Regions from separate parts of the Homo sapiens genome. Here all the other regions are linked to region 1. Evidence: fine-mapped expression QTL. A gene starts in region 1. Each other region holds a variant in brackets. All regions are shown on one strand. Distances are from middle to middle. Region 1 holds the start of PARP14 (poly(ADP-ribose) polymerase family member 14). Region 2 has its middle 23 kb from the start of PARP14. Region 3 overlaps PARP14 (poly(ADP-ribose) polymerase family member 14).

What was found. PIP is the estimated chance that this variant, and not a neighbour inherited with it, causes the effect.
Region 2: its variant is the best candidate, but not a certain one, in a credible set for the expression of PARP14 in whole blood (INTERVAL, PIP 0.53).
Region 3: its variant is the best candidate, but not a certain one, in a credible set for the expression of PARP14 in lung (TOPMed, PIP 0.59).

The regions. Positions count from the first base shown.
Region 1 is chr3:122,678,690-122,682,933 of GRCh38, reverse strand. It overlaps PARP14 (poly(ADP-ribose) polymerase family member 14), which reads right to left and starts at 2,095. Exons shown (of 17, transcript NM_017554.3): 1 at 1,864-2,095. The coding sequence starts at 2,050. RefSeq lists enhancers at 1,357-1,446, 1,988-2,387, 1,812-2,584, 2,988-3,107 and a silencer at 1,698-1,747.
Region 2 is chr3:122,656,109-122,660,352 of GRCh38, reverse strand. No RefSeq gene overlaps it. Among named protein-coding and RNA genes, the nearest start is that of PARP14, 23 kb to the left of the region's middle. The variant G/TATTTG (reference allele first, on the strand shown) is at 1,872.
Region 3 is chr3:122,719,497-122,723,740 of GRCh38, reverse strand. It overlaps PARP14 (poly(ADP-ribose) polymerase family member 14), which reads right to left. Exons shown (of 17, transcript NM_017554.3): 15 at 3,353-3,486. Among named protein-coding and RNA genes, the nearest start is that of PARP14, 41 kb to the right of the region's middle. The variant G/CTG (reference allele first, on the strand shown) is at 2,173.

The DNA.
Region 1 (4,244 bases):
ATAGGCGCACACCACCACGCTCGGCTAATTTTTTTGTGTGTTTTAGTAGAGACAGGGTTTCACCATGTTGCTCAAGGATGGTCTCGATCTCCTCAACTCGTCATCCACCTGCCTCAGCCTCCCAAAGTGCTGGGATTAACAGGCGTGAGCCACCACGCCCGGCCGGTTTTGAGTTTTAATAAGTTTTGGGTCATCTGTGCTGGGGGGTAAGACAAGAGGGGCCACTGGAGCAGCCTGGGGGTGGAGGAAGAGGAGTAGTGGGCTGGGGCCGGTCAAGGATGGAAGCCCAGCAGGAAGACTGAAATCTTTTCTGCTTGGAGGGCTAGAATTGAGTTATTTTATCATCACAAAATTATACTTTGTGCTATTTGTATTTTCATGCTGTTTAAATTTGTATAATTATTTCTTTTTGTTCATTTGGGGTTAACATTAACTACGGAAATTCTGAAACTTGAACACATTAGGGTCACCTGGGCTGCCGGTTAAATACACGCTTCCCACCCACCCCACATTCACTGAACCTGAATCTCTAAAACAGAGCTGGGAAGGTGCCTGGTTAACCTGCTCTCCAGGTGATTCAGATGCAGGTCAGACCTACTTCTAAGGATAATGGAATCTAAAGGAGAAAGAAGCATCCTTAAGGGCCAGATCGATGGTGATGCTGACCTCTGAAGTCAAAGTGGGGAAAACCCTCAAGGAAAAGTGACACCCAAAAGAGAAATGACTAATATCACACAGTTGCCCTTCTGAGCACTCCTTGGTAAAATTAATCCTAGGAAAACATGGTATTTTGTTTTCATAAGGGCCATGAGCCAAGCATATCTCCTGTCCCCCTCCTTCCTTCCTTCTGTGCGCCATTCTTTTTCTGTTTCATTTTTCCTTTTTGGATCCCTGCTTGGGCACTCTAATTGCATGGCCTCAGCCTCAGCCTCCTTGCCTCTCCTCTGGCCCGAATGCTTCTCCAAATCTAGCGACATGAAAGCGGAATTAGGGGTTGACTAGATCCCGATAGGTCATCATCCATAAGATGCCAGTGGAAAAGGTGCCCATTCTGGGAGCTGCAGGTCACTGGCTTCCCATTGCAGACCAGGGAGGCCCTTGAGCCAGCAGATCACCTCTGGGCTCTTGGCCCACCAAGTAGTGGTGGGTCTGTAAGGAGGGAACTTTGCCGACTTTCCCTCCAAAGCTCAAATCTCCCAACCCACAATCACTTCAGAATATCATCCTTGCTCCCAATCTGAGGGCCACTAGAGACTCGGAGAAGAGGCCCCGGCAGGCCCTCGACAATGGGCACCTGTGGTCGATCGACAGCCCCTCCAATGTGGCCGCTGTGACGGCTCTACGTTGACATTCAGGCAGTGTGATTTTAGGTAGCGCCTCTGCCCCTCTCCCAAGTGACCCCGGGACCCCTGGGAATCTCCAAGAACCACAAGGAATCTCTGTGACTTGCCACGTTTCTTAATCAGTTTCCTTCCCCACACAAGAATAATAACAACAGGAAAAGACAGAAAAGGATGATAAGAGGATAGACTCACTTCCACAACAACAACAACAAACAATAACACCACCACAACAGGGAAAGACAGAAAACGATCGAGGGATAAAGAGTTACTTGCGCGGTTCCGCCGCCACCTCCGGGCCGCGCCATTAAGCGCCTGGAAGCGCAGGGCGCCGGGGAACCGCAGCGCCCCGGGTGCGCTCGGAATCCATTCTGCCGCCCCCGCCCCCGCCCCCGCCCCGGCCACCTCCGCTACAGCAGCCGCCGAAGTCGGGCGGGTCACCCTCCCGTGCGTGCCCTGCCGCCATTTCCCTGGAGGGAGGGCAGAGGTGCCCCCTCCTCACCCCACCCCTCGCGCCCCTCACCGTCCTCCGGGTAGAAGAACACCAGGAAGCGGGATGGGCTCCTGGGATCCTGGCGGACCTCACACTCGCCGCCTCCCGACCTCTTCGGGCTCTGGAAGTACATCTGCAACTTGGTGTTCAAGTTCTTCGGGGGGTCGGGGCCCCAGGAGCCCTCGACCAGCAGCGGGAAGGAGCCGGGCACAGCCATCCTCAGCTCCGCTCTCCGCCGGACTGCAGGGGCCGCGCCAACTCCGGGCCGCTAACTTTGACTCTTTCGCTTTCGTTTCCTGGAAAACTCCCAGGCCTTGGTTTCCTTTTGCCTTCAGCCTAACACAGCGGACCCAGGAATGGCAGAGTCATCCCCCGCCCACCTCCCCACCTTCGCATTCGGCCCACAGCCAAGGCCAAAGTAACCCTTTGGGGCTGGCCAGCGGCGCCCCGGGAAGGCGGCCTCAGTTCACCTGTGCTCCACGGGCTCCCACACCCCCTCCTAACTCCGGGCCCCCTACCTGCCGCTCGCCCCAACCGCAGATCAAGTCGGCAGCTTTGGGGCACCAGACCTTGCCCAAACGCAAAGATCATTTAATTTTTGCCGCAAGCCGACCCTTTACAAAAGAATAAAATGACTCACAAACTGTGGCCCCTTTAGAATGTTTGCTGCCTATTTGGGGACTTTTTCAGCAATCATTGTGATTATCAGAATTTTACGTTGCTTTCCCTGTTTTGCTTTCTGTTCCTTGATCTGTTAATACTACATGTCTAGAAATGTGGGGGAAACAATTACACTCACAGTTTTTTTTGTGGAATATTTACTAGGCGCCATGCACTCACTCACTGAACCCTCGCTGAGCTCACGGAGCTATGGTGAACACAGTGGGCAATAGGTGCTCTGGGAAAGAATATACTTGTGTTCCTGGAACAGATGAGGAGTGGCTCCTAGTCCAGCTGTGGCGGCTCAGGGAGGGTTTATAGGGCGGTGACATGTAACCTGATAACCCCAGGATATCAGGGGATAGCCTTGGAGGGTTAGGAAGTGGGGTTCCACGGTGTGATTCACATGTACAGGATCACTCCGGCTGCTGCGTGGTGGCTAGAGTGGAGGCAGAGAGATCAGCCAAGTGGCTACCATAGTGTCCTAAGTGAGAGACAAGGGTGGCTGAGACTGGGGTGCTGGCAGAGAAGAACTGAGAAAACGAGGATTCTCAATTAATAGTGAAAGCAGGACTTGCTGAAGAATGTGAGCCTTGAGAGAAGGAGAAGCTCAAGGATGACTCCATGGTCAGCCATGGATGGCCCGTGCAAGTGGCTGGATAATAGTGGCATCTGCAAGAGGGGAGGCCGAGTGATGGGAGAGAAGCTGGGGCTGTGTGTTTCCTTGACCCCAAATAAAGCAGTGTTGCAAGTCGAGGGGGGCGGGGGGATTATCATTCCAGTGCTACCGATACCTCAGGTCAGAGAAGTGTCTGCTGGACTGCTGAGGAGCGGCAAGCATAGTCTCCTGGTGAGGAGGGAGGAGAGGGAGATGGCAGCTACTGAAGACTGAAAGGGAGGGAAGGAAGTGGAAGCAGAGAGCGTAACACGCTCTTTGCAGAAATGTGACCGTGAAGGGGAAGAAGGAGCCAGGCAGTAGGTTGTGGGGTTACAGGATCGGGCTGAATTTCAGAATGAAGAGAACCAGAGATGGGCCAAATGGTTTACCTGGCTTTTATTTCGGCTCTGTAATAATCCTAAACAGTACACAGATATTTTCTCCTGCCTCCAGCTTGCTACCTGCAGATGGCGCTCATCATCTGATCCAAAACTGCTCTGGACCCCCGCATGCGGAAGACGGGAGGACAAGCGCCCTCAGCCAGACTTGGTGACTGTTTCTCCCCAGGGCCTTTACATCTCATCCCAAACCACAACTAAAATCAGCACTCCTCCTCTCCCACTCTCCCCTGAGTTTGGGGTTCCAGAACTCAGCAAAAAGTTTCCCTTTTTCCTCACATAATTATTGTATAAGAAATAAAGTCAGAGGCATTTCTGGATTACTTTCGAGGATTTATTTAATTATCGACAATGTGTCTTACCACCGAGGTCTGCTTATCATGCCTGGGTGGACTGGGAAGGAGCTATCAGAGGATCAGGATGGCAGGTCTTGAAAGCCAAGGAAAGAAAGTTCTAGAAGGGGCAAATTGTTGAACGGCATTAGCTCCTGCAGTACTTTGTTTTCTGCAAGTTATTTTTGCCTTGTTCACTTGAAGAATGCGTATCCTCTCACAATTCTCTGTTTCCTGTGGGTATCTGCCTTCTGATCCTTTCTTCCTGGGAAGCACGTGTCTTCTCAGGGCCTGGGGTGGGGGTGGCCTGCTGTAGAAGTGGCCGTGTTCCTTGATTCTCCTTCTACTTCACAGCTACAGCTC
Region 2 (4,244 bases), 23 kb after region 1:
AGTATATCACTAGAGTATATCATTTTGATATGCCATAGTTAGCTTCTTTCTGTATATCTGTATTGTTGGGCTCTTAGCTTTATTCCAATGTTTGCCATCATAAAATAAACATTATATATACATACACTTTTTATTAAACATCATTTCCTCAGGATAAATTCTATTACTTGGTCAGGGGTTAGGCATATTTATGATTCTTTCAATAAAGTACCATTTTGCCCTTCAGGAAGACTGAATCAGTTTACGCTGCTTTCATTAATGCATGAGCATATCTGCTTCCCGAAGCCTTGCAGGCTTTGGCTTTTACAACTTTTTAAAAGTTTTTCTAAATTTTTTTAAGGCACAAAATGAAACTTCACCGTAGGTTTAATTTGCAGTTATTTTACCAACAAGGTTGACTGAATAGTTTTAAAATTATGATTTACTGACAGTGTTTCTTGTTGTATGAACTGTTTTTTAATCATTTGTTTAATAGTTGGTAATTTTACCTATTTATATGCACTCTTTATACTTTTTAGTTATTGAACTTTGTCTTCATTTGCAAACTTTTTCTCCAGTCTTCTGAATTTTTAAATTTCAGCTTTATTGGTATTCATTCCACCAAAGATAAAGCTATCTAAGTCATGAACCTGTCCGTCTTTTTTTCATTTATATTCCATCGACAGTCAAAAAGTGATTTCCCCTAGTGCTAGTCTTTTACATATGTGTATTTGTTTTTTTAAATGTATTTAACTCCCAATCTACCTGGATTTTTTTTTTCAGAGTGTAGTGCAAAGTGTGGGTCTTTTAAATATTCTCATTATTGATATTCCTGTACACCAAGTGTTTCAAATTTGTTACCAGTACATTAAATGTCTGCTAGGACAAATTCTTCTCATCACTCTTTTTGAATCTGAAATGCTCTTTGATGTACTTGCTCATTTATTTTCTCCACATACAATAAAAATTATATTAATTTTATAAAGCATCTTGCTTCTAATTGGTGACTTGTATCTAATTCTAATTTAGAATTAATTAAATCTAACCCTGAATCCTCTATGCACTGTGGTGAGTTGAGGCTGAGTTGTGTCCTTCGTAAGGCTCAGCCTGCATTGATTTTACTCCTGCTTCTTCAGGATTTTCAGCAGAAATCCTAGTGTATTCTCCATGCTCTTCCACCTGGTGGGCCAAGAATTCTAATCTTTGTCTTTACAAGACTGCCGAAGGCTCTGTTCTGCTTCAGAAGTTTTCTGCTTCTCTTTTTAGACTCCAGCCTCATGCACCCCTGTAATTTAACAGATGTTCTCTGGAGACCTTCCAAATCTCCTCCCATATCCCTCCTGGCCTCTGCCTCCCAGCAGTGGCCTTCCTTGGGTGCAAGGCCTGGGGTTATCAGTCTCCTCCCCAAGCACAGAATCAGCAGATGACCCCTAGGCACAGTGGCTGCAGAACTCAGCTCTCCCTAGCTGTGATTCTCCCTCTCTGGAGTTTTGGCTCCTTCAGTTATTGCTAACTCAGAAGCCCTTTTCTGCCTTAAAATAGATGCCTCCTCTATTTTGTTCTAATTTTCTGCTTATTTTAGGTGAGAACACATTCTGTCACTAGCTAATTCATCCCACTTGGAAACATAGGTTTATTTCACCTTAAACATTTTTCTTCTACCTTCTTATATTTTAAAACCAAAAAATCTTATTTCTGTTTGACATATTCCTCAGAAAAGCCTATCCTGACTTCTCAGACTCAGTTAAGCAGTACATTTTATATCACTCTCTACCTCTTTTTAAATATTTATTGCAATTTTAATTAATTCTGTAATTTATTTTTTAATTATTTTATTTTATTTTATTTTATTTATTTTATTTTGTTTTATTTTATTTTATTTTATTTTATTT[G/TATTTG]AGACAGAGTCTTGTTCTGTCACCCAGGCTGGAGTGCAATGGTGTGATCTTGGCTCATTGCAACCTCCGCCTCCCAGGTTCAAGCGATTCTCCTCCCTCAGCCTCCTGAGTAGCTGAGATTACAGACACCATTACGCCCGGGAATTTTTTGTATTTTTCATAGAGATGGGGTTTCACCATGTTGACCAGGCTGGTCTCGAATTCCTGACCTCAAGTGATCCACCCGCCTTGCCTCCCAAAGTGCTGGGATTACAGGCATAAGCCACTGCGAACTGTAATTTATTTATTTATTTTTAGAGACGGTGTCTCACTCTGTTGCCCAGGCTGGAGTAGAGTGGTGCAATCACGGCTCACTGCAGCCTTGCTCAACCTCCTGAGCTCAAGCAATCCTCCCACCTCAGCCTCCTAAGTAGCTGGGACTGCAGGCATGCACCACCACGCTCAGGTAATTTTTGTATTTTTTGTAGAGACAGTGTTCTGCCATGTTGCCCAGGCTGGTCTCAAACTCCTGGGCTCAAGTGATCTACCTGCCCACTCCTCCCAAAATGCTGGGATTACAGGTGTGAACCACTATGCCCAGCCTGTAATTTATTTATATAATCTCAACACGCCCTGTTGGTTCTGTTTCTCTAGAGAACCCTGACCAATACAATTATTTAGTATCAGGCCAAGTTAAAGGTTTTTTTTTTGTTTTGTTTTTATTTTTTATTATACTTTAAGTTCTAGGGTACATGGGCACAGTGTGCAGGTTTGATACATAGGTATACACGTACCATGTTGGTTTGCTGAACCCATCAATTCCTCATTTACATTAGGTATTTCTCCTAATGCTATCTCTCCCCCAGCCTCCCACCACCTGACAGGCCCCGGTGTGTGATGTTCCCCACCCTGTGTCCAAGTGTTCTCATTGTTCAATTCCCACCTATGAGTGAGAACATGCGGTGCTTGATTTTCTGTCCTTGTGATAGTTTGCTCAGAATGATGGTTTCCAGCTTCATCCACATCCCTGCCAAGGACATGAACTCATCCTTTTTTATGGCTGCATAGTACTCCATGGTGTATATGTGCCACATTTTCTTAATCCAGTCTATCATTGATGGACATTTGGGTTGGTTCCAAGTCTTTGCTATTGTGAATAGTGCCACAATAAACATACGTGTGCATGATTTACAATCCTTTGGGTATATACCCAGTAATGGGATCGCTGGGTCAAATGGTATTTCTAGTTCTAGACCCTTGAGGAATCACCACACTGTCTTCCACAATGGTTGAATTAGTTTACACTCCCACCAACAGTGTAAAAGCGTTCCTATTTCTCCACATCCTCTCCAGCATCTGTTGTTTACTGCCTTCTTAATGATCGCCATTCTAACTGGTGTGAGATGGTATCTCATTGTGGTTTTGATTTGGATTTCTCTGATGACCAGTGATGATGAGCATTTTTTCATTTGTCTGTTGGCTGCATTAATGTCTTCTTTTGAGAAGTGTCTGTTCATATCCTTTGCCCACTTTTTGATGGGGTTGTTTTTTTCTTGTAAATTTGTTTGAGTTCTTTGTAGATTCTGGATATTAGCCCTTTGTCAGATAGGTAGATTGCAAAAATTTTTTCCCATTCTGTAGGTTGCCTATTCACTCTGATGGTAGTTTCTTTTGCTGTGCAGAAGCCCTTTCATTTAATTAGATACCATTTATCTATTTTGGCTTTTGTTGCCATTGCTTTTGGTGTTTTAGTCATGAAGTCCTTGCCCATGCCTATGTCCTGAATGGTATTGCCTAGGTTTTCTTCTAGGGTTTTTATGATTTTAGGTCTAACATTTAAGTCTTTAAACAATTTTGAATTAATTTTTGTATAAGGTGTAAGGAAGGGATGCAGTTTCATCTTTCTGCATATGGCTAGCCAGTTTTCCCAGCACCATTTATTATACAGGGAATCCTTTCTCCATTTCTTGTTTTTGTCAGGTTTGTCAAAGATCAGATGGTTGTAGACGTGTGGTGTTATTTCTGAGGCCTCTGTTCTGTTCCATCTGTCTATATCTCTGTTTCGGTACCAGTACCATGCTGTTTTGGTTACTGTAGACTTGTATAGTTTGAAGTCAGGTAGTGTGATGCCTCCAGCTTTGTTCTTTTTGCTTAGGATTGTCTTGGCAATGCAGGCTTTTTTTTGGGTCCATATGAACTTTAAAGTAGTTTTTTCCAATTCTGTGAGGAAAGTCATTGGTAGCTTAATGGGGATGGCATTGAATCTATAAATTACGATATTGATTCTTCCTATCCATGAGCATGGAATATTCGTCCATTTGTATGTGTCCTCTTTTATTTCATTGAGCAGTTGTTTGTAGTTCTCCTTGAAGAGGTCCTTTACATTCCTTGTAA
Region 3 (4,244 bases), 41 kb before region 1:
TACTGATTCCAGTGGAGAGAAATGGTGGTCACCCACTTAACTAGTGATCAAACTTAGCATCATTAATAGTGGGATGGCCTTACCATCTGAGGTTCCTGATGTGATGTATCACCTATGAAGTATTCTTGCAAAAAATATTTATCTGAATTTACTCAAACCTTTCAACCTAACTCAGCTTACCAGAAATAAAGAGGATAGAGAAATAAATGATATTATCAAGAATCAGATAAGTCTAGAATCTATAAAACTGGCATGGATTCTTCCACAAAAATCAAGGCATGACAGATCCAGAATGTGATACATTCTACAATACAATTGGCTTAAACTCTAAAAAAATTCATGTCATGAAAAATAATTTTTTAAATGCAAGAGTACTACTCTATATTAGAAGACACAAAGGAGACATAATGTCCAAACCGTGTGTGAACTCAGACTGGGGTTGGGGAGGGGGAGTTATAAGAGATTTTTTTGAACAACTGGAAAAATTAGAATATGGACTGTGGCCAGATGTGGTGGCTCACACCTGTAATCCCAACACTTTGGGAGGCCCAGGCGGGGGGATCACTTGAGGTCAGGAGTTCGAGACCAGCCTGGCCAACATGGTGAAACCCCATCTTTACTAAAAATACAAAAAAAAATTAGCCGGGTGTGGTGGTGGGCACCTGCAATTTCAGCTACTTGGGACGCTGAGGCAGGAGAATCGCTTGCAACCGGTAGGCGGAGGTTGCAGTGAGCCAAGATCGCGCCACTGCACTCCAGCCTGGGTGAAAGAGCAAGACTCCGTCTCGGGGAAAAAAAAAAAAAATATGAAATGCATATTGGATATTACTGAATTAATGTTAAGTTTTTAATTGGGATAATGGCATTGCCATAATTTAGGAGAATGTCTTTAATTGGGAGATACTTGCTAAAATAGGAGTATCATGATGTCTGCAACTTACCTTCAAATGCTTCAGCAAAAACAGACAGGGAGAGAAAGCAAAAGTGGCACAATTGTTGAATCTAAGTGGAAGGCTTATGGATATTAAAAACCTTAATCATAAGACATAATAGTCATAGAGGATGACAGACCACCCATTTTTTATGTTATTTTCACAATTCTAGGGACCTCCATGGAGGCACCTTAAGTACTACCCACACCTCTGCTTTTATCTGGTTCATACACTGGGATTTCACATAAGATTTTATTGAAAAAAAAGGTTTCACTGCAAAAAAGTGTTGAAATCAATTCTCTGGCCAGGGTCTGCCAATACACAGCAGGCATCCACAGGGCCCACTGTAGATATTGCTGGTCAAGCAGAACATTCATTCCTGCTCAATCTAAACTTAGCATCTCATCACAATGTGCCAATCAGCCACTACCAGTTAGTAGTAATTGGTACTTGGAGTGAGACTTACTTGTTATCTCAGAAATAGACCATCATAGAGCTGCATACTTGAATCATATTGTCTTGGTGCCTCATAGAATTGTTTTCATTCAATCAGGCATCGGTTTTGTTCAACCAGTTTTACATTAAAAAAAAACAGTGATATAAAAGTTGATATTTAATTTATTGTGAGGATGACGTTGAGGATATTCTCTAGTACTTGATCCACAAGAGAAATCTCTCAGGAGTCAGTCTCAGTATTGTGAGGAGCTGTGAGCCTCCTTATCAAATGGTTTGCTTTTTGATTTACGGACATTATGAGTCTTGTACCTGAATGTTTACTTCTTGCTTTGTCTACTAGGAAGCTCAGGGACAAATTGGTAACCTCATGTTATATATTTTTGAGAACTAGCAGTTCGTCTGTATTATCTTATTTTCCCTGCCATTCTTTTCTCTTTAACCATTTTTCTTTGTATATTTATTTTATCTGAAGGTATAGTTTATATCTTTGTAGGGCACTTTGAATCTTTTTAAATTATGATGTACTTAACAACATGAATAAACAGTGTTGGCAGTTCAAATAGAGAGTAAGAAAAATTTGCAAAGAAAATGTAGGTCTTACTGGCAGACTTATGGTGGATCAAAGATCTCCGGCTTTACTCAGAAAGTGGTAGAACCAAAAACAGAAATGAGGAAGGAAAGGGAAAGAGAATTACTTACGTATGATGCATTAGATTTTAGAGAAGTTGATTTTGCAGTTAGATATTCAAGTGGAGATTTTTTTTTTGAGACGGAGTCTCACTCT[G/CTG]TCGACCAGGCTGGAGTGCAGTGGCGTGATCTTGGCTCACTGCAATCTCTGCCACCCATGTTCAAGCAATTATCCTGCCTCAGCCTCCCAAGTAGGTGGGATTATAGGCACCTGCCAACATGCCCGGCTAATTTTTGTAGTTTTAGTAGAGACGTGGTTTCACCATCTTCACCAGGATGGTCTTGAACCCCTGACCTCGTGATCCACCCACCTCGGCCTCCCAAAGTGCTGGGATTACAGGCGTGAGCCACTGTGCCCAGCCTCAAGTGGAGATTTTTTTAGGCCACTGGGAGTATGTTCTAGAGCTTGAGTCAAAGACCCAGGTTGGTAATGTTGATTTGGGAGCTATTGACATTGAACTAATAGTTGAATCCAAGAAGGGTAAATATATTCCCTGGTGAGGTACAGAGACAAAAGACCGTTTAAGCATAAATGGCGTGAATAAAGCTAGAATTAGGGGTTTGGAAGAGAAACAGCGTGCCTGCAAAAATGAAAAGAAAATTAGTCAAGGAAAAAAAAATCATAATAATTTTGCTAGAGAAGTCAAGGAAAATATAATTTCAAACAGCAATATCAAAAATGTTTAAAAATGGAAGAAGATGCCAAAATAATTGGTTGTTTTTATTTGAGAGCAGGATCTCACTATGTTACCCAGACTGGCGTCAAACTCCTGGGCTCATGCAATCCTTCCACCTCAGCCTCCCAATAGCTGGGACTACAGGCACGAATCATCACATTCACCTGCCCAAAATAATTATGATAAACGAGAAAAGGCCTGCTGGCTTTATCAAGGAAGCACTGTTGATCTGTGAATAATGGGGCAGAGTAACATGGTCCTGATCTAAGGAGCCTCTGCATGGCTCTCTGTGGAATTTGCTAGCTATCAAATCCAATTTTAAAGCCATATCTTTGAATTTGTATTAGCTTGCTTCACAAAGTAAATATATGTCTTTAGTGTTCTATCATATTACAATCAAATATTGTAATCACTGACACAAGAATCTTAATGCCTCAGTAATTATGGTCACATGAGTAGAATCTAGAACTACTAATTACCATACAAATTCTAATTCTGGGTTTAAAAAAATGTGATAGGAAGTGAATGAAAATGGATTTTATATAGGACCATGACAGAACTTATTTCCACCATCCAGAAACTGCATTCTAGCAGAAGGCTTACCTTCTCTATTCTGAAGTGTGAGCAGGTCTGATTAAACTTGCTTGCCACCGTGTTGTACTCAGGATCACTAGGCAGCAGCTCCACCACACAGAAATTCTGCTGCTTCATATCACTCCAGTGTGCAGGGATGTCAACTGCAAAGGAGACATTTGAGGATGCCCTCATACATCCCCGGTACACTCTGGAACATTTAGTATCTGTGTTCTTGTTTTACTATCTCCCAATTCTAAGCATTCAAAGAGTTCCTTATCTTTCTAGGAGAACGCTTTTCAAAGCATGAACAACAGACAACCTACATCAGAACCAACTGGAATGCTTGTTAAACAAAAAAAAGGAAAGCCACAGATCAACTGAATCAGCATCTGTGAGGGGCAGAGCCTGTATGTCTGCCTCCTAAGTTTGGATCATACTACGATTTGAGAACTGTTGGTGCAGTATAACTCATCTGTGTTTTCTGTTCAATCTCTAGTAGTCACAATTTCACAATAAATTATTTCCCTACAGTGTTCTAAGTAGTTGCTGTTTTGTTTGTGCATGGATTTTTGCCAGAACTCCTCACCATCACCACCACAGGCACTCTACATCTATTTTTTCATTATTCTTCATAGCATCTTTAAGAGGCAGTTAGGTGGCAGATTTTGCTATGTGACAAGCTGTGGTGACAGCTCTGTCTTCTCCTCTGCTAAGCAGAATACTATATGTGATTTATCATTTCCCCAGGGTTGCTCAGAGTCTCGGGAATCTGTTCACACTGATCTCACAGGAGATAAATATAGTGTAATGGAAGCCAATTTACTCATTTTCAAAGGGGACTTAATCTGGTTCGAAGGTAGGAAGGGCTGCCTACACAAGACAGGGCTTCCCTTCTTGGAGAGTAGGTCTGGTCAGAGAA